3 separate regions of the Homo sapiens genome follow, and all the other regions are linked to region 1. The links come from fine-mapping of genetic effects on gene expression. A gene starts in region 1. Each other region holds a variant in brackets. All regions are shown on one strand. Distances are from middle to middle.

Region 1 (8,338 bases):
ACAAGCTGCGAAGACTTCAGGTCCCGAGTGTTCTCGTGCTTGGCCAGATACTGAAGCACCTCCCGGGCACATGTCTGGAAACCTGAGCAGAACATCTCTTGACCTGTTTCGACATTTCTCCCTGACAGCTCACCTGGGGAAAGAAAAATCCGAAGGAAAACGTTTCAGAAGGCCTGTGGCGCACCTGGAAACTATACTCCAAAAAACCAGGTGCTTTAGTTTTTGTTAAAAAAAAAAATGCATTTACTGATTTGTGTTCCTAACTCCAAAAGTAGTATGCTCAGAGAAGAATTACACTGAAAAGTATAAATAATTAAAATAATCCATATACTAACACTCAGATAAAATATGATTTTTAATGGTTGCATAATATCCTATCATGGAAATGGACCATAATTAATATGAGATGAGCTGTTTCCCCTCTTTTGGATTGTATAGGTGGTTTGTGAGTTTTCCATGTAAGCGAGGCAGCAAAGAACATTCTGATGTATTTATAAACCTAAGAGTCAATGCATACAACATTGCACCGTGGCAAAATGGGCAGAGGCTGGATAGTTATAAAATGAGGAAAAGAATGAAGAAACAACAATCACCTAAAGTAAACTTATTTTCAATGATTTGTAAAAGTTGCAGTCATGCTGTGACCTTTAATTAGGCTATTTCTATGTCTTCTCCACATATTCTATCCATGATCCTCAAGACATTAGGTATGACCATCTTCCTATTTTGAATGAGGAAACAGGCAGAAGCACTAGCTGGGTTTTTGCAATTTTCATCATACGAGCCTTCGAGAGGAAGGCAGACAAGCATGAAATGAGGGAGTGGGTAGAATAATTCTCCCCAGTCTGTACAGTATTATTTGGAAGAAGTGAGACTAGAAGGTTAGAAGGTTGACTCCGATTATCTGGAAGTCAGTAGAAACGAATGATGAAACTTCAGTGGTTTCGCTAGATTGTGCAATTCACCAAGATACCTAGTGGCTATTCAGGGAACCACATGAAATGCAGGAAAAACTCCTGCTGTATCCTGCCAGGATCACACCACACACCAAGTGACAAGGAAGCAAAGAAACAGGAAAACGCTGGGGCATACCCATGATTTCTTCTCCAATGAAAGAGGGCTAAGAAGACCAACTGTAAAACACCCACAATGCAAATTATAGGTGCCTTGGCATTTTAAAAGGGAGTAGGGAAATCTCCCAGAACCCAGAGACTCTCAAGCTAAAATGCCACAGGAATATCTTATCATTTCACTAATACGTATTCATGCCAGGTGGCACAATGCATTTCAAATGAAAAGTCTGACCTTTTAGGAAAGATAAAACTGCATCTCCCCCAATGAACGTGCATAAGCAATTTGTTGCAGTAATGTTTATTACATCAGATGTTGAGCCCACGGGCTCTCTATTTGCACTCAAACTCTTAAAGAGAGCATAGCCAGAATCAGCACTCACCAGCTTGTAAACCACTCTGCAGGGCAATGATTTTCTGCTGCTGCTGATCAATTAGGTTTGTTAGTGCTTTCACATGCTTCAAGGTAAGTTCAAGAACCACTGCTTTTTCCAAGTGACCCAAAGTCTGGAAGGAAAAGAGCCTTAGTCAGCGGTGAGGTCAGAGAAGTCCCACCTTTGGGACATTTATTAGCAATGAGAAATGAGAAAAGAAAAAAAAAAGTGGAATAGTGTTTCCTGGTTGGCTGTTTTAAGTCTGTAGGTCATGCTTTTAAAAAGATAGACAGATACACTCATATATGTGTGTGTGTGTGTGTGTGTGTGTGTGTGTGTATATATATATAATATATATATATAATTAAATAATTTAAAAAAACGGGTGCCACCTGTCTTTGGAGGCATTTTGGAAGCTGCAACTACCTCAGGAAAATCCTTTGACAGATAAATTTCTCCAGCAGCCTCTGCCGACCTTAACTCAGGGGAATCCAGAGATAACATTTTCCTGCAGTGGTGTCAACTCAGAGAGGGACCTCTATTACGTCTGGCAGCCAAGAGGCTTTCCCTACTTCTTTCCTTACACCCTTTCAGAACTTCCAGCTCATCCAGGCTTTTTTGTTCCTCCCGAAATACTATTTTTTTTTTTTCCATTTCCCCAACCAAAGGCTGCGAAGTAGCCGAGGGCTACTGTCAAGAAAGGACAGGCCGTAAAAATCACACACCAAAGCAAGTCCCCTTATTTGACAACAACAACAAAAAAGGTGGGGGGAGTGGTAGAGGGGAAGGGGTAAATAAAATGTGTGTGTTTCTTGGCGTGTTCCTTTAAGTGAGAAAAACTAGGGAATCCTGAAAATCACCAGAAGTTAAACTCCTGAAAAGGAAGGCCAGTTGGTGTTGGAGCCAACTTGGAGAGGTCCAAGTGGTTCTCGCCTCATTTGCATGAGTCAGCCAGAAAACGCCAGGACTGTGGAGGAGGACCCCACCGCAGAGCCACCCGCCAGCTCTGATCCGCCAGTCTGGTCTGCAGTTCCCCGCGGAACCTGCAGGCGGCGAGTGACCCGCCCGCCCTCTGGGCAAAGGACTGGGTTGGAAAGGGGCCAGCTTCTCACTTACTGTAAGTTTGAGATGTTCGGGTAGGAGATCCTTCAGCTGGGCGATGCACTCGTTAATCCGGTCACGTCTCTTTTTCTCGATGAGCCGGTGCGGCAATTTGTAGGTCTCCTGCAAGACGCACGGGGAGGCGGTGGGCGCTTGGGGAAGGAGATGAGAAGCCTATCCTCCCAGCCCCGCAGCAACAGTCCGGCAGAGGAGCAGAGTAGCAGAGTAGCACCCAGAACCATCGTCTGCCCTTTCTTTTCCAAGTCACTCAGAAGAGGCACCGAGCCCACACCCTGCATCCCCTCGCCAACCTCAAAGCGAGAAAACTTTTCTTGGAAACTCAGCGCGCGCGAGGGGCTGAGCGCAGGGTCCCTAGGGGTGCACTTGCTTACCTTGCTGTCCTCGCTCCGCTTTATTCCCCGTCTTGACTTGTACACTTGGTACATGTGGGCAGGGTACATCCTGCAGGAAGAGAGACCAGGAAGGGTCGTGACTGCTTGCGCACGGCTGCAGGCGTTCTGCCGGGCAAGAACCTCCCGGTGCGCCCGGAGCTGCTCCAAGTTGAGAGTGGCGCATAACATGGGGCTGCAGTTGAGGCTTGAAGGGCCAAGGAGTGCCAACTTACCCTGGTAGGTCTCCGTGCTCCAGTCCCGGTGCTTTGGGCAGGCAGGCGGGGGGTGGTTGCGCGCTGGGGATCCGCTCCATGGCGCGGCGAGCCGGGGCCACTGCGCGCTCCTGTCTGCACTAGCGGAGCGTCTGGATGAGGACTGCCCTGGAGAGGGCTTCGGGGGTCTCTCCGCAGATGTTCCTCTGAGTCTGAGCTCTTTGAAATCCCCTGGGCTGCTGGAATCTTCGGCTTTGAGATGCAGCTTCAGTTGGGGGCGTGCATGGCCCGGTGTCCCCGCGGCCTCTGGCTCCGACTCAGCGCACAGACTGGCGGTGTGTGCTCCCTGCGCGGTCTGTCTGCGCCGTGCGAGCCAAGTGAATGAGAAGTGGGGCGGGCGGGGAGGCGGGAGGGAGCGGGTGAGGGGGGGGCGGTTAGGGCGGAGTGGGGGGGTGGGGGGGCAAGCCGAGGAGTAATGGAGAGGCTGCGGGCTGGGTTAAATGGGAGCGAGTGGGTGGGTTGGAGCTACGTGTTCTACCCTGTGACTCCAGGCACGTCTGGCCACTGCCGGGGAGGGAAGGAGCGACCTGCCCGCCCTCCCCCGGCTTCATCACATGAGTCTCACGTGTTGGACAACGCTCCGGCGGCTGCTAGGGAGCCCCCACCCCCAGCCCCGGCCCCCAGGTGTCTGCGGCTGCGGCCGCCTTTCCCCGAAGAGGGGGTGGCAGCACGACCTGGGTCCTGCCCAGTTGGGTGGGGGGCGCGGAAGCTGGAAGGGACGGGGGTGCTGGGGGAGGGGGAGAAGTTGGTAACGTGGGCGAACCTGCCCCAGGGAAATGAAGTAAGTTCCCGTCTCCTGGGAGGGAACGGGGGAGGACGGATCCGCCCGCGTCTGACTCAAGCCGGGAGAGGAATATCCCCTTGCTAGCTCCAGCCCAGCCCTCTTCCTCCTCCCCCGCCCGGCCCGCTTGGAGGAACCGGCGCGCTGCGGAGGGAGTCGCCCGGCCCCCCAGCCTTCCCCAGAGGCTGGGGTTTCTTTCCGTCCTGGCTTCCCTGCCCCCACTGCTCACCCTCGCGTCCAGGAATTGCCCGCCTTGGGGAGGGACCGAGGGGCGGGGCGGATGTCACCCCATGGGAAGCGGGCCGACGGCCAAGCGCAGGGGCAGCTGAGGCTGCCGCCGAGCACGCCGCGCGCACCTGACCGTGGAGGGTGTGAGCCGAGGGCCCCTCGCTCCCAGGAGCTCCGCTCCTGGGCACAACCTGCGGGCGGGCGGGCACCCGGTTGCGCAGCCCCCTGGGTGCCCCAGTGTCACCCCCTTCCTCCCGGCCAGTCAAGCGCAGAAAGATACCGGGCGCTGTGCCCGGCGCTCCCTCCCTCCTCTGCCCCCTCCGGAGCAGAGGCGCCCCGGTCGCCTCCCCTCCGGCTGCAGCGTTACACAACCGCGGCGGCGGCGCCTGCCCTGCAGCAGCGCAGGGCGTGACGCTTCACGTGGCCGGGCTCAGGTCGTAGCACCGCGGACCGCGAGCCTCTCTGCGTTGACCCAGGGACTGAGACCCCGGGGACGTGGCGTGCCAGCCCGGATCGGCCCTCTCCCTGCCTGTTGGGAAGTTCGGCGGCGCTGTTCGCGGTCTGCACCCAGGGCAGGAGGGATGAGAGAGACAAGAAAAAAAAACCGCCTGTTACAGGGAAATCTTAGCAATCATGCGGTCGACACGTATTTCTTGAGCCCCCTGCTCTGCACTAGGCGCTGCACTAGTTGATGAATCCGACACGGATCCTGCCCTTGAACTTGCAGAACCTCTAGGAAGAGGTTAAATTGAGCAATAAAGGAAAGGCAGCCCTGGGAAAATTGTATCGAGGCCACTGGCTGACAGAGGGGAAAAACAATGAGAACTTGTGTTGCTTTGTGTTTTGTTTTTAATTTCATTGTAACCGAGATGCCTAGGTAGAGAAGCGGGGGAGAAGCTAACCCAAAGCCCCAAGCCCGGGGCGGAAGGACCTCCTCCAGCGGCCCCAGATCTCTGCAATCTCACTTAGGCTGCCGGAGGGCCCCACCCACCTCCCCCGGAAAGGTCCGGGCTCTGTGACCTTCTCACTCAGCCGGGAGCAGGGAAAACAGCTGAAACTCCAATCCCGCGGTGTGAGCAGCGCTGATACAGTCAGAGGAGGGAGCCAGTGGAAACTCATGACTAAAATAAGGCCTGGCTGGGGATTTCACTGACCTCTGCGCTCCCCTGCCCTGCAAGTTCGGGGAGTTGAGAGATGACTGTAAGCCCTTCCCACTGCGCTTCGGGTCAGTCACCCCACTGCTGAGTGACCTGGCTGTGGGAAGGATTGAAAAAAAAATGGGGTCACTGCCGAGACTGGGCGAAGAGTAGTAGCCTCGGGTGCAGTTAGGGGATCAGTCTTAACTGGCAGTGCCCTTGACGACCTAGAGAACTGGCATTCACAAGTTGACCAAACTGGCAGTGTATTTCCTTCAGGTCGCCTTGGAGAGCTCCCGCTTCCTGTTTATATTTCACAAGCGTCAAACTCTTTAGCAAGTGTGAGAAATGCCTCCTTTTCTAACTGCTAACTGGCATGACCTCACTTCGGGGCTCAGAGATCCCTCCCTGCCAGAATGTACTTTTGCTGGCCAAAGGCGGGGACCGGGGTCCGCCCTGGAAACGCGCTTTCAATCTTGGGCGACCTGCTTCATTGTGTGATTTTAATAAGGATGAAGGGCTGTCACGGCTGCGTCAAAACCACGGTTCCAGCAGGAAATAAGCACTGGGAGAGGACAGGACACGTACCCCCTTCCGCCGACACCCCCCACCCGATGGCAGGAGGGAGCCCAAACCTTGCAGCTTCCATGGCTCATGGCTCATGACAATATCATTCTTAAAATTCTTTGAGTTTATCAATACGTTTTGCCCTTACCTGCCCTACAACTGTAAATAACAAAATGTATGCATTTCCTACTTTTTATTTGTTCCGAATGTATTCTCAAGCTTCAAGAACGGTTCCCATCCTACCAGACTTCCACCGTATCAGGATTAAAAAACAAAACAAAACTCTGTTATTCTCTCCATAGCTTATGGCTTTTAAAAAATAATAATTTGAACAAACAATTCCTACGTGGCATAGATCTTTCCATCCTGGAGAATGTTACTATTTCAGTCTGTCATCTTTTGTAGATATTAAAAACCTTTCGTATGTCAATTTCTTTGCTCCTCACCACCACCTTTTAGGCAGGTACTAGTATTAGCTCGATGCATTTGACACGTGTTTATTGTTATTCAATGCCAGACACTGAAATAGGCCCTAGGGATGTATAACATATTCTGTTTGGAAAATTGAGGCTCAAGGAGGCTAAATAACCTGCCCCAGGTTATATAGTCTGGGATTCAGTCTGAGACAGGCCCCCAGGTTTGTTGGACTCCAAAGCTTGTGCTCTTAATCACTATACTTACGGTTGCCTGGTAGGGTTGTTTGGGTTGTGCACCGCTCAACTCCAGGGGGAGCTATTCACATTGCAGTCTGTGTGAGAGCACCCTCTGGAGTTGTGCAATGTGGCACTGAGCAGCTGCACTGGGTAATCCTGCCATTTTGTAGCCGTCCCTGCTGTTTTGTCTCTTCTAAGTGGGGAGAGAACATAATTTCGTACAAGAGAAAGATGGGATCTTTCTCTTCTTTCCTATTGGGACTCAGCATCTTGGTGGCCTTACACTGTGTGCTGAATGAGTCTATACTGTTACTATCTATAGTAACTCCCGGGCCCTTCCTGTGCAAGAATTTAGAGCCCCAAGCTCCCCTATACATCCCCACAACTTGCTTGCTCAGATATCACTTTTTACCTGCTTATGAAGCCTCAAAAATTTTTATCTCAGCTCACGGTAAGAAATACATTTTACATCATGTCTCAATACACACACGTATGTCTTTACACACATCTTAAGTATATTTAAGCATAGGGCAGCCAAAGCTTGGTTGGGCTATAGCAATAAGTGACCGCTACCCTCTCTCCTATACTCCTGAGTAACCATTGCTCTCTTAAAAAAGAAAAAAGAAAAAATTGAGCCACTTAGAAAGAAGTCAATCAGGCCGAGTGTGGTGGCTCATGCCTGTAATCCCAGCACTTTGGGAGGCCAAGGCGGGCGGATCGTCTGAGGTCAGGAGTTCGAGACCAGTCTGGCCAACATGGTAAAACCCCAGCTTTACTAAAAATACCAAAAATCAGCCGGACATAGTGACGGGCACCTGTTATCCCAGCTACTTAGGAGGCTGAGATAGGAGAACTGCTTGAACCCAAGAGGCAGAGGTTGTAGTGAGTGAGCCGAGATCACACCATTGCACTCCACCTTGGGCAACAAGAGCAAAACTCCGTCTCAGGAAAAAAAAAAAAAAAAAAAAAGTCAATCCAATGCATTTCAGACAAAAATTTCACAGAACAATATTTCACTGTTATTATATACATTCTGATACTTTCCAGTTTAGTCTCATCTGTTTTATTAAAAGTATTCAGGTCATGACTTACTAAGTTGATCTCACCACTCACCAATGGATCATGACCTGAAATTTAAAAACTTGCCTGTGGGGCACAGTGGCTCACGCCTGTAATCCTAGCACTTTGGGAGGCCAAATCAGGTGGATCATGAGGTCAGGAGTTCAAGACCAGCCTAGCAAATATGGTAAAACCCCATCTCTACTAAGAAAATTAAAAAATTAGCTGGGCATGGTGGTGCACGCCTGTAGTCCCAGCTACTTGGAAGGCTGAGGCAGGAGAATCGCTTGAACCAAGGAGGCAGAGGTTGCATTGAGCCGAGATCATGCCACTGTACTCCAGCCTGGGCGACAGGGTGAGACTCCGTCTCAAAATAAATAAAAAATAAAAACTTGCCTTACTCTAGAGATAGTGTTGTATTTTTGGCTTGGCCCCACCAGAAAGAGATCAGTGGCATCTGCACACTTGAAGATCTTCCAAATAACTTATAAAAATGTTAAATAAAATTGCTGATTCTGGTTGGACTCAATGGTATAGAGGTCTCCATTCAGGAAAACATCTGTTAATTCCTACCTTTGTTCCCTATTTATAATCAACCTTCTCATTTTCTGCTCTTTTAAAAAATAACGGCATTTAATTCTTTAATTGAGAGGTAAACATAAAATGCAGATCTTAAATGTTTGGTGTATTATTTTTGGTAAATGT
Region 2 (8,338 bases), 270 kb after region 1:
AACAGCCAGTTAGCAACTGTGTCTCAATAGTGACACCTGCTGGTAAATCACAGCAAACAGGCTCACTGGGCAGGAGTCAGCCACATACAATGGAGAGATTATATGGAGAGGAGAACCGAGACAGAGGTCCACTCAGACCTGCTCGTTTATAAAGCGTGGCTATTTATCCACTGAGAATTGCCAGTAAAATGGGTCAAATATGCCAACACTGTAAAACAAAAACAACTCATGAGGATGATGGTTGAGGCCAATACACACAGTTCCCTTATGCACAAGCTTGTCCTTAGAGGGGCCCAGAAAAGTAAGAAACTCACATGCAGAGTCCAGCCCCAAGCTAAACAAACAACTAATCTTAGGGTAAAAATCTCTTTTTTTTTTTTTTTTTTTTTTTTTGAGACAAGGTCTCGTTCTGCCACCCAGGCTGGAGTGCAGTAGCGCGATCTTGGCTCACTGTAGCCTCTGCTTCCTGGGTTCAAGTGATTCCCCTGCCTCAGCCACAGAGTAGCTGGGATTACAGGAGCCCGCCACCATGCCCAGCTAATTTTTGTATTTTTAGTCAAGATAGGGTTTCACCATGTTGGCCAGGCTGGTCTTGAACCCCTGACCTCAGGTGATTCACCAGCCCCGGCCTCCCAAAGTGCTGGGATTACAGGCATGAGCCACCGTGTCCGGCCTTGGGGCAAAAATCTAATGGAGATTTCTAACCATGGGTCTGCTTGTTGCTTACAGATTACGCACAAGGCATAAACTAAGAAATTACAAAATTATTAGGAAAAGATGGTGAGGTCACGATAGATCTGAGATTTCTGAGGGCTGAGGGATCATGGCTTTTTTATGTCTGTACCACAGCACACGGTGGGTGCACTGTAATGAATGAATGAATGGGCATGCAGTGAAAATAAGAACTTCTCACCAAAAAACAAAGCAAAACAAAACAAAACAAAAAAGTGTCAGTAAGCAGGATTTAATAGACAAACTTACTTTGGGGAGGTCAGAACAGGACTTTAGCACATGACCTTGCATTCATCAAAGTTAAAAAACAGGACAACGTCTCCTTCTTCGGGAACAAAAGCTTTGTGAGGTCATCAAGGTTCTGGCAAATGAACACCCCAGAGAGAGAGGCCGCTTACTTGCAAATGAAACCGCCACTTTCACATTTCCTTCTGGCGTCTGTGTTCTCTGGGAAAAGCAGCTCGGGTCTGTGGAGAACATCCACGAGCACAGATAACTCTGCCTGCACCAGGGGCCTGAGACGGTCCTCCAGCGCGGAGACGATGTCCTAAAACGGAAACACAGCCTCAGTCAACGGCTCAGGCAGACGCTGACCACAGGAGGGTGAGGACATTGATTTCTGCCCTAAAACACTGATGCACGGGTAGGCTAGGTTAGAGTAACTTTAGTACCGTCTGGCATCTCAAATTATTAGACATTGCCCAATGGTTACCTGAAACATTAGCCTCTGATGCAGAAAACAAAGTGAAAACAAGTCAACTTTCCCACCACCCCTTCTTTCAAGGTGGCCCTTATGCTACTCAAGGTACCACTGCATGTAGCTTAAAATATGACGCAAAAAATCAATTTAACAACATGGAAAGATGTCTATGACATGGGCATAACAAAGGTCAAACAATAATAATCCTATTTTTATAAACATCATCAATATCTAGCTAAAGGATAAACATCAAATATTAAAACATTACTACTGGTTTTCTCTGGGTGGTGGGATTACAGGTGATTCTGATTTTCTTCTATATAGAAATACTTGTCAGTGTTGTTTATTTTCAATGAGCATGAATTATTCACATAATAAAGTCATACAAACATGAGGACACCAATGAATGAACATGCTGTATCAACATGCTAAATACATGTACCCTGATAGCATGATGGTCTTCAAATGCAAAACACATAGCTGTAGGAAAGGAAAACAGAGAGAAGTTGAAAGAGCAGCAAAACCAACACAACAAACACCATTTGAAGGCAAATGATAGAAAACAGATGAGAAATTATCTTCAAAAGATGCTAAAGCCTGCTCCATGGTTTGGTGACTCAGAACCTGCCTACAGGCATGTTGGCTAAGACAGGGGCCAAACACAGCACGTTGGATAATACAGGAAGGCCTGGTTACCCAAGGACATTTGCATGGGAAAAGCTGCTTAAATTGGGACCCAGTTGGGATTGACAAAGAATTAACTAATCTTTCATCCAGAAACTAATGACATGAAGATAATTTAATCTTAGATTTAACACAATTTGGGTGATGAATGTAATCACTCAGTAAGGTTTAAGATGCATAAAGATACATGAATCAATCAAATAATTTTGAGTGGGGCAATTTTCCCAACAAGACTGTAAGACGGTACTTTGCAACATCCCTTAGTTCATACTGACTTTCACAGCACAGTCAAAAAAGGGTCATTTCTGCAAAATTCTGAGGCTCTTATCAGTTCCCCCCATAGCATCCCTTTTGGAAGCACCCAGTCAATATTCTCTTCAATAGTTATTGATCCTGACTCTGGCAAATCTTTGTCTACGGTATTTACACAGGATTAAAGTTGTTCTTATCATGTTCATGTATTTCATGAAATCCTGCATCTTTTGCACAGTTTGAACTTTACATTGCAATTGATTTGCATTGTACTGTCAAATGTATAGCATTCAGCAATCAAGGAGACATCAACAAAGATGGCAAAGCAATGGGCGGGGAAAGATGCTAGCATTAAGTGAGAAGGATGTCTAGATGGGGATTAATTATAGAAGTGGTCTGTTTGCGAGTGAATTTCTTATATTACAACTTTTGCTGCACTAGGCAATCTCATCAACCACAAAAACTCAGACAGTAAATAACTGGATAATGCAAATCCTTTACGTCACTGGCCAAGTCCTTAGAACAGTACTGCCCACCTACGCGTTTCATTTAACTTCCCAAGAATATGCATAATAAATCTAAGAAGAGCACAAGAAACCAGCATGTTTGATTGCAGATAGTTTGTTTCATTTGAGCAGGCGAGAAAATACTGTATGCTCATGGAGTGAGGAGTCTACAACATCCCTCCCGCCTTTCTAAAAGCATAGTGGGATCAGGAAGCACTCCATCAGGAATCAAGAACTGGTTCTCTTTGTTATTTAAGAACTGGTTGTGTTATGATAAAGGCTGAAATTCTTAACTTGACCCGAGAAATCCCGCCAGCCTCCCCAGCTTCCTGGCTCCAGCCACACTCAACTTCCTTTGCTCATAAGAGCAGGGTTTCATAGGTCAAGTTAAGATGCACGTTTAAGTGTTTAACACCCATCTAATACGACTCTCCCTTTTAACAAAGGGAGAGCAGATCTCTTGGTAGACGCTAAGAAAAAAAAGGAATAATCTAGCTGGAATTGAGTAATACTTTTATTTTCATCTTCTTTTCGGTATAACGGTCTTTACACATGCTGTTTCCCTCCCTTTTATTCTTTAAGTCCTGCTGTTCCTTCTCATCTTGGTTCAAAATGTTACTTTCCTCAGCAAGGTCTTCCTTGACCCTCATCCCTAACCTCAGACAAAATTAGTTTCCTCATCAGAATCTTTCAAGCGCTCCTCACTTCTCTGCACTTCTCACTTGTCCCTCTCACCATTTTATATTTAAAATTAATGTCTCTTTCTCCCTTCTGATACTTGAGATACTATGAGACAAAGATCATCATTTCTGGTTTTGCTGACCACTGTATCCCCAGAGCCTAGCATGGAGCTGATGAATGATTTAACGAATTCATCTGTCTTCAAGTAGGTTGTGTAACTGTACAGAGACTCAGTAACTATTACAATCATAGCAGTAAACAACAGTAATAATAGTAATAATAATAATAGCAGCCCTCAACTGAGTGCTCACTACATGCCAGGCACTGCTCTATGTGTTTTATGTGCACTCTATTTTCCTAAGATGGCTATACCACAATACATCCTGTCTTTCACATTCTTCTTACAATGTGACACTGACATCCCTTTCACTGAATGATGGTCTAGATTCCCTCCCCCTGAACTGGAGTGAACCTTTGAGACTGCCTT[G/A]ACCAAAAGAGTACAGTAAAAGTGACGCTATGTGACTTCTGAAACTAGGTCATAACAACAATAAAGTTTTCACTTGTCTCTCTCTACACACACTCATCTTGGGACACAGCCGCCATGATGTGAGGAAGCCCAGGCTATATGGAGATGTTTCAGTCGACAACTCCAGCTGAGGTCCCACCTGACAACCAGCATCAACTGCCAAATATGCGAGTGAGCAAGGTGTCAAGATGAGTCCAACCGCAGTCACTATCTGACTGCAACGCCATGAAAGACTCTAAGCAAGAAATAGCTAGCGGAGCCCAGTCAACCTCCAGAAGAGCAAAAGAGAATAAGGTAATTGTTGTGATTTACTGCACGAAATACAGGTAACTGGGACATATTATCAACTCTCTTAATCCTCACATCAACCCCACGAGGTAGGTGCTACTGTTTTACAGACTAGGAATCTGAAGGACCGAGAAGTCAAGTAACTTTCCCAAGATTACACCATTTCTAAGCGGCAGAGCCAGGATTTAAATTTAACCCAGGCACTGGCCTGAGACTACACTCTTAAACACTGCTTGTGGGCTCATTCAAAGGATCTGCGATTCTCAAACTGTGACCTATGTACTACCTGTGAGAGCATCAACTGAGGTGCTTGTATAAAAAATACGTTAATGTTAAGATGCATGTTTAAGTGCTTAACATCTAATACTCACTACTCTCCCCTTTAACAAAAGGAGAGCAGATGTCTTGGTAGATTCTACGAAAAAAGGTAAATAATCTAGCTGGAAGGAATACTTTTGTTTCCATCTGGCTCATTCTGATGTAAAATTCTTCTCTCAGGTATCACCACCCTTGTTCACCTGCTGATTCAAGAGGCTAAATAACCCCAGAGTGATGGGGAAAATGGAACATTTATGCTCTTACTCTAAACATCCTCTGTAATACTTCAATACTTCCTTCTAATAAGAGCAGAGTCCCAATTTTTCACCAAGAAATCTGCAAATCTAGGAGTAACCTTTAAAGACCATCACTTTTCAGGAACTTTTCTATTCCTAAGTAACTTCCCACTCCTGGCCCTACATATATAACATTTGACTATTCGTTCAGCACACCGACATCTTCCCACGGCCCAGCTTAGATGCTCTGTGGCTCAAGGATGCACTGCTGTGTGTGGCAATCACGTGAGGCCAGGCTAAGCATCACTTCTCTCAACACCAGGCATTACCTGCAATCTCTCAATGATATTCCGGTAGTCTCTGGAAGCTGCCAGAACAGAGTCCCTGCGTGCGGCATTGCGGGCTGAGAGCCGCCAGTTCATGGCTGTTTTCTGCACAATGCTGTGGGACTTGAGAAAGAGGTTGTTGACTTGGCTGTCCAGGTCCACGGGAATGGCAATGGCCCGGCTCTTGGCTGCACAGGAGAAAGATGAGTCGTGAGCCTACAACTTTTATGGGGGACACCCTACAGATGGACGTAATGCCCTAGTCCCCATCCAGCAGGTTTTTCACACCCAGAATGGGCCAGCTTGCCTGGTATTGAGCTTAAAGACTGAGAAGCTCAAGTCAACTTTACCATCTTTTAGGTCAGGGTTTCCCAGTGTGAATTCTGGGGGGAAGCAGTTCTTAGGAATGTTAAAATGCTCTCAGGTCATAAGGCCAGGGCATGTCAGAGTTAAAGTTCAATGGGTTTCCTCAATGAATGGCTTCTTAGGGTCACTGAGGTGTGTGTGTATTTTAAGAATAATCAAGACAGGGAACTCGTTTGGCCAATGAATCATTTGCTAGTTATTTTTCAGGTTTGTTCAACAATCTACAAAAATGCTGGGTTATCCCAAACATAATCCTAAAGGTAGCATTCACAATGGCATAAACTCCTCTTTCTGGATAGGTGCTTCTTTCTTCGTCTTAAAAAAGGAGAACTCCAGTCTAAGCATGAGACAAACATCAGTCAAACCCATAATGGGAGACACTCTACAGGACTCCTGACTAGTACTTGTCAAGACTGTCAAGGTCATAAGAAACAAGGAAAGGCTGAGAAATGGTCACAGACCAGAAGAGACTGGAGAGACATGACAACCAAATGCAAGGTGGTACCTGGACCAAATCCTGGAACAGAAAAAGGGCATGACAAGGGACAGCAGTGGGAAAAGTGGTGAAATTCGAATCGAGCCTGGAGTTGAGGTAATAGCACTGTACCAGTGTCAGTTTCCTAGCCTTGACAAAGGTGCCCTGCTAATGTAAGATGCTGACAACGGGTGACAATGGGTGAGGGATTTGTGGGAACTCTCTGTATTACCCTTGCTACAGTCCCATAAACCTGAAATTATTCCAAAATAAAAGATTTTGAAAAGGAAGATAATTAAGACTAATAATCACTCTTTTCCATATGGGAAAATGTCCAAAAAACAATGATTTCCTGTCTTCAATGCTTCAAAACACTAGAAGCAAAGAAAGTACTCAACTATCTAATTGTAAAAACAACTCCAACATCCTGAAAGAGGAATCTGAGAAGCAATTATTTAAATCCCATTTAAAAACATACACACACACACAATTTAGCGGAAAAAAAACTATAAGCCAGCCAACAACTTTCTAACAGTCTAATATAGAAAGTGGGAAATTTGGAAAAATACAAATAATTAACAATTGAAAAGCAGGATGCACAGGGTACACCCGTCACAGCTAGAAACTCTATGCCTTGGATATTCATAAGCTAAACAACTAACACAGTGGGTTCTGGGTGTGGTATTAGTCATGAGGAAGCGACCCCCAAGAGGCACAGAGGGGACTCTGGGTAGTGCTGTTTTCATGTCTTACCGTTCCACAGACATCAACTCTCCTTGTCTTTTGTCTTATCACCACCAAGACAAATGGAAAGACTTCCCCTCTCTAATGAGCACTGAGCTACTAGTCAAGTCAACCACTTGCTAAAATATTAAACAAAAACTAACCTCTGTGGCAAGGGCTTCCTCCTACGTTTCCTTTGGCCTCAACAAGCACAACTTTTTTTTTTCTTTTTTCCAACTTTTATCTTAGAATCAGGGGGTACCCGTGCAGGTTTGCTGCAGAAGTGTATTGCTTAATGCTGAGGTTTAGGGTATGATCGAACCCATCACCCAGATAGAGAACAGAGTACCCAACAGGTAGGGATTTTTTTGTTTTTTTGAGACAGAGTTGCGCTCCTGTCGCCCAGGCTGGAGTGCAGCGGCGTGATCTCGGCTCACCGCAACCTCCGCCTCCCAGGTTCAAGCGATTCTCCTGCCTCAGCCTCCTGAGTAGCTGGGATTACAGGCATGCGCCGCCATGCCAGGCTAATTTTGTATTTTTAGTAGAGATGGGGTTTCTCCATGTTGGTCAGGCTGGTCTTGAACTCCCAACCTCAGGTGATCTGCCCGTCTCAGCCTCCCAAAGTGCTGGGATTACAGGCATGAGCCACTGCGCCCGGCCTCCAACAGGTAGTTTTTCAACGCTTTTCCCCCTTTACCCCTCTAGTAGTCCCCCATCTTTACATCCACGTGGACCCAATATTTAGCTCCCACTTTAAGTGAGAACGTGTGGTATTTGGCTTTCTACTTCCACATTAGTTCACCAGGCACATTCTTTTTGATAGATAATCCTGTATGGAAAAAGTATAGGGTTATCTGGGAATTTCATTGCAGGGCCCTGTTTCTAAGATATAACACAATGAACCTGTCGTGTATATATTTTCCAAAACCTAATTTCTTACTGTGAAATACGGCCACACCAATAATAAAAAGACATCAACACCTACCATAGGAGAGTAAAGGAACTGGGCGAGAGACTACCGAAATCAGGCAACAGTCCTAATAGATTATACGTATCTCCCAAGGTATATCCAAACTGACTTGATATCTTACCTACACAATTGACAGTTGCTGGACAGCCACTAAATAATGCTGAGAACTACACCTGTCTTGCTCTTCTTGTTACTGTCTGCAAGGATCTAAGAGGCCACTCCAGGCAGGTAACTCTCTTCTCAACTTCAGGCAGGAAGCTTACCTCTTTGCACAACATTAATAGGGGGTGGGGAATGGGTCAAGTCATGGAGTCTGATAAAGTCAGGATGAAGGAAAAAGAAATTTTCCTAACTTCCTTTCAAAGGCTGCCTATGAGAGGCGGGACAGGAGGGGAGTCACAGAGGAAATGGAGAATCATTTCTACTCAAGGGGAAGAAGGGAGCAGTGCACCATTTCTGAGAAAGGGTGTTCCTTAGGATGTGACAGGTGCTTTCCAGGAAAAAGTTACCACATGGTCAAGTACATTTGCTGGATTAAACAAATTAGTTTCTTGA
Region 3 (8,338 bases), 56 kb before region 1:
CGCCTGACGTCAAGTGATCTGCCCGCCTTGGCCTCCCAAAGTGCTGGGATTACAGGCATGAGCCACCACACCCAGCCTGTTTGTTTGTTTTTTTGTTTAGAAACAGGGTCTTACTCTGTCATCCAGGCCGGAGTGCAGTGTGGTATGATCATATCTCACTGTAACCTCAAACTCCTAGGCTCAAGCAACCTTCCTGCCTCAGCCTCACAAGTGGCTAGGTCTACAGGCAGGCACCACCATGCTGGGCCAACTTAAAATATGTATTTTTTGTAGAGACAGGGTCAGGGGAGAGGCATTTTCACTGTGCTGCCTAGGCTGGCCTCAAGCTCCTGGCCTCCATCCATCCTCCAGCCTCATCCTCCCAAGTAGCTGGGACTATAGGAAAAGGCCACCACTCCCAGCTCCCCTATTCCATTTTTCGTTTGTTTGTTTAAACTTGACCCACTTCTCCATCTTCTAAATTGCCAGAGGTAACTGAGAGCTCAAAATGTGGGCCCAGATGGATGACCTGAGCCAAATCCCTTTCCCACAACTGGGGCTGCTGGCTGCCATGTGCCCCAGAGGCCAACTCAGAGAGAAGTGAGAAAAGCAGAGCCAAGAGCCAGACAAAGAAAGAGAGTCTGGGCAGCCCTGGGTTGCTGGTTCTAGTCCTGGAGGCCATGGCTGCTGCACTCTGTTTTCCAGTTCTGCGAACTACCACAACAGCCCTGCAGGCTTCTCAAGTTACTTAAATCCACTTCTTGCTTTAGCCACATTGAGAGGAGTTTTGACACTTGCAACCAAAAAGAGTTCTGACAAATACACAAGGTCACAGGCAATTCTGAATCATCGACTTGGAGCCCCAAAGTTCCAAGAGGCCTCAAAAAGTCATCCAGGCCAGGGGCTTAAAAAAAAAAAAAAAAAAAAAAAAAAAAAAAAAAAAAAAACACCACAACCTCTTATTTTAAATAGCTAAATCTTCAAATCTTCAGGAGCCCAAATATATAAAACAGACAAAAGAGGAAGTGCTGTGGTAGCTGTAAGAGTGTGGAGACCCCGAGCCCTGCCCACCACCTCCTCTGTATCCAGCTGAAAGCTACTCGTCTGGTCCAACTTCCTACATCAGGAATCACTTTGACCACATTTTTGACACCTGGTCACCTAGCCTCAGCTTGAACACATCCACACAGGCAGCTGAGTAAGCCTTGAGGCAGTCCCCTTCTTTTTTTTGACTTCTCTGATTGCAAGACAGTTGTTCCTCTGCCTCCTAGAGGCATTCGCCCATGGGTCTTAGTCCTCTGGGTTGAAACAGTGTGAATTAAAGCACCTTTCCTATGGCAGCCCTTCCTGATGACAATGATCATGTCCCACTTAGCTCCCAGCTTACACATCCTCACTTCCTTCTGACTGTTGCTCATGGGACATCACGTCCAGCTGGTGAGCTGCCTAAAATAGGCAGGCTGCTGTTCAAGGTGTGATTTCAGGAGGACCATAAAGACAGAAGGCTTAGAGTTAGAGAACATGCTTATTTTAAACATACACACACACACACACAACACACACATGCACACGCACACGTTACATGCACACATGCAACGCTCAGAGGTTGACGGTAACCCCTTTACTTCCTATGTGCAGCATTTCCCCTGTGCCAGGCACTATGCTCAGGACTGTCCACTCCACTTGTGCTTCAGCCTTCACGACATACCCATGATGTGAGGCGTCATGTTTATCCCCATTTAAAATATGATCCCTTGAGGAGTTCAAGTAACTGGTTCAGGTACAAGTACTAACATGCGGTGGGAGTGGGATTTGAACCCAGGACTCACCTGACTCTAAAGCTGGGGTGGCTGGGTATATTTCTATGCGACTCCATGGCTCTCTTTGCTACTGACCACCTAGCCCAGAAGGATGATAAAGTGGAGCCCAGGAAGGATATGATCAATGCAGTTAATTTTTATATCACTGTGGTCAAGACACAAGGCGGGCACCTCCTTTGTATGTGAGCCTTGGAAACGCTTCTTTTTAAACATAACACAGTCATTGCGTGTTAGAGATGATTTAATCTGTTAGTTGAGTGAGCAATCGAGGAAGACGTGGGTCTTTGGGGTTCAAATGAGGAGGCATGACTGCCTGGTAATCAAATTGATTGCAGTGAGCTAGCTTCCCTTTTCTCTTGTCTGTAGAGACTCTCTAATCTCTTTTTCCACCCAACCCCCACTTCTGGATGCCATTGTTCCCTAGAAGGAGAATCTGGGGACCAAAAGGGTGAAGGAACCAGCCATGGCCACCTTGGAGCCCATGATGTTATCAGAAGGGAACTTGGCCCCGGCTCTCTCCCTCCTACACTCAGGGGCACATCCATGTTCCACGACTGTGTCTGATGTTTTCTTAAAATGCTCCAGGTGTGAATTGTAATAGTAGTAATAGCAATCATATTCTTGATAACTTTTATTGAGCAATTGCTATACACAGGCATATACATCATCTCACACAACCTGCCTCCCTTGTGACTATTACTGTTAGCCCATTTTACAGACATGGCCATTAAGCTCAAGGGAAACTGGGTAACATATCGAGGTTTCTTGCCCAAACTCACCCACTTATAAACAGCATGACTGATATTTCAACTTTGGCAGTTTGACCTAGATCCCAGCTATCTTGATATATTAAGGAACAAAACAGGTTTCAAAACAGTGCAGGATACTACAGCAACGAAAAGGAACAAACCTTTGACATGTGCAGTGACACAGATGACTCTCGCCGTAGTTATGTGAGGGAAAGAAGCTACGTTTTAAAAGTGTACAGATTATATGATTTCATATACATGATACATTCGATTTACAAAATTCTAGAAAACGCAACAGAAAACAGAAGGATGGTTGCCAGGGGACTGAGAGGGCCAGGAGTGAGGTGTCACAAAAGCATGAGTAAACTTTTTTTTTTTTTTGAGACCAAGTCTCACTCTCAACCAAGCTGGAGTGCAGTGGAGCTATTAAGGCTCACTGCAGCCTCGACCTCCTGGGCTCAGGCAATCCTCCCACCTCAGCCTCCTGAGTAGCTGGGACTACAGGTGTGCACCACGACGCCTGCCTAATTTTTGTATTTTTTGTAGAGGCAGGGTCTCGCTATATTGCCCAGGCTGGTCTCGAACTCCTGGGCTAAAGCAATTCTCACCTCAGCCTCCCAATGTACTGAGATTACAGGCATGAGCCACTGTGCCCAACCCAGCATGAGTAAATTTTGAGGTTGATGGAGTTCTCTGTTCTTTGATTGTGGTGATGGTTTCCCAGGTGCATGCAAATGTCAAAACTCATCAAATTGTAGACTTTCAATGCACGTCATCTGTTGTATGTCAATTTTATCTCAATAAGGATTAAGAAACAGTATTATGCATGATTCAGCACACCAACATGGCACATGTATACATATGTAACAAACCTGCGCGTTGTGCATAGGTACCCTAGAACTTAAAGTATAAAAAAAAAGAAAAGAAACAGTATTATGCGTGATTATGGTTTAGGTTTTTTTAAATTATTTTTAATTTTTTTTAGTGGGGCTCAAACTGGTTTCGTTTCTAAGGAAAAATTACATAGATACACATGTATACATACATTTATACATATTATAGGTAATACATACACATATAAAATTACATATGATAAATATTAATGCATAACTAAAATATATAAATTATATATAAAATATATGTTATATATTTATATATGACAACATGACTCACAAGGCCACTGTGCAGTCTAGTCCCAGACCCCCTCCCCAGTGTCATTTCTCACCACTGCCCACCCCACCCTCCAAAGTGGACCACAGGGTATTACTTTCATTTCCTCCATCGCCTCATGCATGCTCTGCTTCCTGG[C/G]CTTCTCATTGCTATTTATTTCATCTGCCTGGAACACTCTCCCACCCTTCCTTGATTCTTTAGGCCTCAGCTAAGGTGTCCTTTCCTCCTTGAACCCAAAGTACCTCCCCTTTGGCACCCAGTATTGTAATTGTTTAATACCTTTTTTCTATTGTTACCCTGTATGTTCCATGAGGGCAAGAGACCCTGTGTCTTTTGCTCATGGAGGTGTTCCAAATACATAGCACATAATAGGTATTTACTAGAGAGATTTCAAATGAAAGACCAAAATGATGGGTTTTTTTTGTTTTTGTTTTTGTTTTTGTTTTTCAAGACCAAGTCTTGCTCTGTCACATAGGGTAGAGTGCAATGGTGAAATCTCAGCTCACTGCAACCTCCACATCCCGGGTTCAAGTGATCCTCCCCTCCTCAGCCTCCCAAGTAGCTTGCATTACAGGCGACTACCACCATGCCCGGCTAATTTTTTTTTTTTTTTTTGAGATGGAGTCTCACTCTGTTGTCCAGGCTAGAGTGCAATGGCACGTTCTCAGCTCACTGCAACCTCTGTGCCTCCTGGGTTCAAGCGATTCTCCTGCCTCAGCCTCCCAAGTAGCTGGGATTACAGGCGCATACCACCACACTGGCTAATTTTTGTATTTTTAGTAGAGATGGGGTTTCCCCATGTTGGCCAGGCTGATCTCGAACTCCTGACCTTGTGATCCACCCGCCTCGGCCTCCCAAAGTGCTGGGATTACAGGTGTGAGCCACCGCACCCGGCATTTTTTTGTATTTTTTTTAGTAGAGATGGGGTTTCCCCATGTTGGCCAGGCTGGTTTTGAACTCCTGACCTCTGCTGATCCACCCGCCTCAGCTTCCCAAAGTGTTAGGATTATAGGCGTGAGCCACTGCACCCAGCCCAAAATGATATTTTAAAATCTTAGTGAAGAACCACTACCACCACTACCAGTATATACTAACATATTATATATATACATATATATATATTTTTTTTTTTTTTTTTTGAGACGGGGTCCCACTTTTTCACCCAGGCTGGTGTTCAGGGGCATGATCCACGGCTCACTGCCACCTTGACCTCCTGGGCTGAAGAAATCCTCCCACCTCAGCCTCCAGAGTGGGACTACAGTGCATGCCACCATGTCTGGTTAACTTATTTTTATTTTTTTGTAGAGATGGGGGTCTCACCATATTGCTCAGGCTGGTTTTGAACTCCTAGGCTCAAGTGATCCTCCTGCCTCAGCCTCCCAAAGTGTTGGGATTATGGTCATGAGCCACCGTACCCATAATATATATGTGTGTTTGTGTCCGTGTGTGTGTGTGTGTGTGTGTATGAGATAGGATCTTGCTCTGTCACCCAGGCTGGAGTGTGGTGGTGTGATCACAGCTCACTGCAGCCTCGACCTCCTAGGCTTAATTGATCCTCCCACCTCAGCCTCTCTAGTAATTGCGAGCACAGGTTCGCACCACCACATTCAGCTAATTTTTGTATTTTTTTTTTTTTTTTTTTTGACATGGAGTCTGGCTCTGTCGCCCAGGCTGGAGTGCAGTGGCGTGATCTCGGCTCACTGCAAGCTCCGCCTCCCGGGTTCACACCATTCTCCTGCCTCAGCCTCCTGAGTAGCTGGGACTACCAGTAGATGGGACTACAGGCACCTGCCAACACGCCCGGCTAATTTTTTTGTATTTTTAGTAGAGACAGGCTTTCACCACGTTAGCCAGGATGGTCTCGATCTCCTGACCGCGTGATCCGCCTGCCTCGGCCTCCCAAAGTGCTGGGATTACAGGCATAAGCCACCGCACCCGGCCAATTTTTGTATTTTTTGTAAAGATGGGGTTTTGCTATGTCGCCCAGGCTGGAATTGAACTCCTAGGCTCAAGATCCTCCTACCTCAGCCTCTCAAAGTGTTGGAATTACAGGTGTGAGCCACTGCATCCAGCCATATTATATATTCTTCAAGATGCAGGCTAGCATAATGTTAAGAATGATTATTAAAATAACATGACACAAAGTGGTTAAGAATAAAAGAGTCATTCATGGCTGGTTCTACCAGTTGCTAGCCAAGTAACCATGGGCAAGTTACTTTATCTCTCTGAATCTCCGTTTTCTTCCGTGTGTAATCAGGACAGCAATATTCCGTCAAGGTTGTAACGTTTCAGTCAGATAACACACAGTAAGTGCTTCGTATGGAGTGCCGGCTGTAGGTTATTATTATACTGGTGCTGTCATTCAGATCAATTGAATATGAACTGTTAACTGATACCTCCCATTTATCTGGAGCTCTCCATTTTACAAAGCATTTCTCATTTAATACCCCAATTATGCCTCACAGGAACCCTGGAGGGAAGGTGACACAGATGTCATTATTACCCATTTTAAAAGGAAGCTGGGGCCCAGGGATGCTAAATGACTTCACTCAAATGGTAGATAAGGTGAACAGTGGCACCAGGAGCTGACCCTGAGTAAGGTAACGGCTCAGGGCCCTTTACCAAGGGTGGAGTCTTGCCTACTCTTTGAAACACAGAAATGACTGAAGGCCCCTACTTACCTCCTCAGCGAAGTCCCTCAGCTGGAAGTTCCTGGGATTTGGTGTTCTTTCAGTCACCAGGCCTGTCCTGTTCCCACCATTTTATCTCAACTGCATCTCATCTCAGGCAGCTGATAACTTTTTTCTTTAATTTTTAATTTTTATTTATTTATTTAGAGACAGGGTCTCACTCTGTCATGCACGCTGGCATGCACTAGCATGATCACAACTCACTGAAGCCTCAACCTCCTGGGCTCAAGTGATCCTCTCACCTCAGCCTCCTGAGGATTTAAAACTATAGGCATGAGCCACCACACCCAGATAATTTTTTTTTTTTAGTTTTTTTAGAGACAGGGTCTCGCTATGCTTGTCCAAGCTGGTGTCAAACTCCTGGGCTAAGGTGATCCTCCTGCCTCAGCCTCCCAAAGTGTCAGGATTACAGGCATGAGCCACCTCACTGAAGTTGGTAACTTCTGTCTGCTCAGCTCTAACATGGAAATGGTGCAACACAGTTCCTTCCCTTCAGTCTCCACCCCTAAACCCCCAAATCTCTTTCACCTAACACAGGCCCAACTCCTAACCCTGCCTTCCCCACGCACACACACAATTTTTTTTTTTTGAGACAGTTTCAATTTTGTTGCCCAGGCTGGAGTGCAATGGCATGATCTTGGCTCACTGCCACCCCCGCCTCCAGCGTTCAAGCGATTCTCCTGCCTCAGCCTCCCAAGTAGCTGGGATTACAGGCATGCTCCGCCACGCCCAGCTAATTTTTTATATTTGGTAGAGACGGGGTTTCACCATGTTGATCAGGCTGGTCTCAAACTCCTGACCTCAGGTGATCCACCCACCTGGGCCTCCCAAAGTGCTGGGATTACAGGCATGAACCATCGCACCTGGCCCCCACACACAATTTTTAACTAGGAATGATCTACTAGCCCCTTTCTTCTTCAGGCCCCAGCCTCCTTCCAAGTTCCTTGACTCTCCTTTCTCTCCCTCACATTTTTCTGCTCCTCTATTTCTCTAGATTCATCTCACTTTGGGCTGCTCCTTTTGCACAAAAATACTCAAATCTCTCTTTTGATTAGACAAAGCATTTTACTTTCCTACACCCTCCTCAGGAATGACATGCCTTGGAGAACGTCAGCGAGCAGTGCTTAGCTAAAGAAAGGCTCACCTAACTCTGTTCCCACCCTTTGATCTCAGAATTTGGGAGATTAGGCTTTGTTTGTCCCAGCACAAAGTGTGTGTGTGTGTGTGTGTGTGTGTGTGTGTGTGTGTGTGTGTGTGTGTGTCTAATTACCCCCTTCCTTCCTGCCTGCCTTCCCTCCCTCCCTCCCTCCCTCCCTCCCTCCCTCCTTCCTTCCTTTTTTTGATGGAGTATTGCTCTGTCGCCCAGGCTGGAGTGCATTGGCGAGATTTCTGCTCACTGCAACCTCCACCTTCCAGGTTCAAGCAATTCTCCTGCCTCAGCCTCCCAAGTAGCTGGGACTACAGGGATGCTCCACCACACCCGGCTAATTTTTTTTGTATTTTCAGTAAAGACGGGGTTTCACCATGTTGGCCAGGCTGGTCTCCTCAGGTGATCTGCCCACTGCAGTGTCCCAAAGTGCTGGGATTACAGGCGTGAGCCACCACACTTGGCCTCTTTTCTTTTCTTCCTTCCTTCCCTCCCTCCCTCTCTCTCTTTCTTTTCTCCCTTCCTTCCCTCCCTCTCTCTCTTTCTTTTCTCCCTTTCTCTCTCCTCCCTCCCTCCCTCCCTCCCTTCCTTCCTCCCTTCTTTCCTCCCTTCTTTCTTCTCTTTTTTTTTGAGACCTAGTCTCACTCTGTCGCCCAGGCTGGAGTGCAATGGCACGATCTCGGCTCACTGCAACCTCCATCTCCCAGGTTCAAGCAATACTCCTGCCTCAGCCTCCTGAATAGCTGGGATTACAGGCACGTGCCATCACGCCCGGCTAATTTT

What was found.
Region 2: its variant is fine-mapped to the expression of BHLHE40 in fibroblasts (GTEx, PIP 0.90).
Region 3: its variant is fine-mapped to the expression of BHLHE40 in whole blood (TOPMed, PIP 0.91).

What each region holds. Positions count from the first base shown.
Region 1 is chr3:4,974,631-4,982,968 of GRCh38, reverse strand. BHLHE40 (basic helix-loop-helix family member e40) reads right to left here and starts at 3,532. Exons shown (of 5, transcript NM_003670.3): 1 at 3,171-3,532; 2 at 2,938-3,007; 3 at 2,561-2,668; 4 at 1,454-1,577; 5 at 1-133. The coding sequence starts at 3,250. BHLHE40-AS1 (BHLHE40 antisense RNA 1) reads left to right here and starts at 3,008. Exons shown (of 3, transcript NR_125916.1): 1 at 3,008-3,174. RefSeq lists enhancers at 2,549-3,143, 3,251-3,400, 4,701-4,820, 4,951-5,000, 5,121-5,310 and 2 more and silencers at 3,551-3,610, 3,821-4,590.
Region 2 is chr3:4,703,266-4,711,603 of GRCh38, reverse strand. ITPR1 (inositol 1,4,5-trisphosphate receptor type 1) reads right to left here. Exons shown (of 62, transcript NM_001378452.1): 37 at 5,253-5,437; 38 at 1,131-1,279. LOC124906210 (a long non-coding RNA gene) reads left to right here and starts at 1,252. Exons shown (of 3, transcript XR_007095797.1): 1 at 1,252-1,335; 2 at 4,152-4,375; 3 at 5,915-6,380. The variant G/A (reference allele first, on the strand shown) is at 4,043.
Region 3 is chr3:5,030,792-5,039,129 of GRCh38, reverse strand. No RefSeq gene overlaps it. Among named protein-coding and RNA genes, the nearest start is that of BHLHE40-AS1, 55 kb to the right of the region's middle. RefSeq lists an enhancer at 6,981-7,482. The variant C/G (reference allele first, on the strand shown) is at 3,857.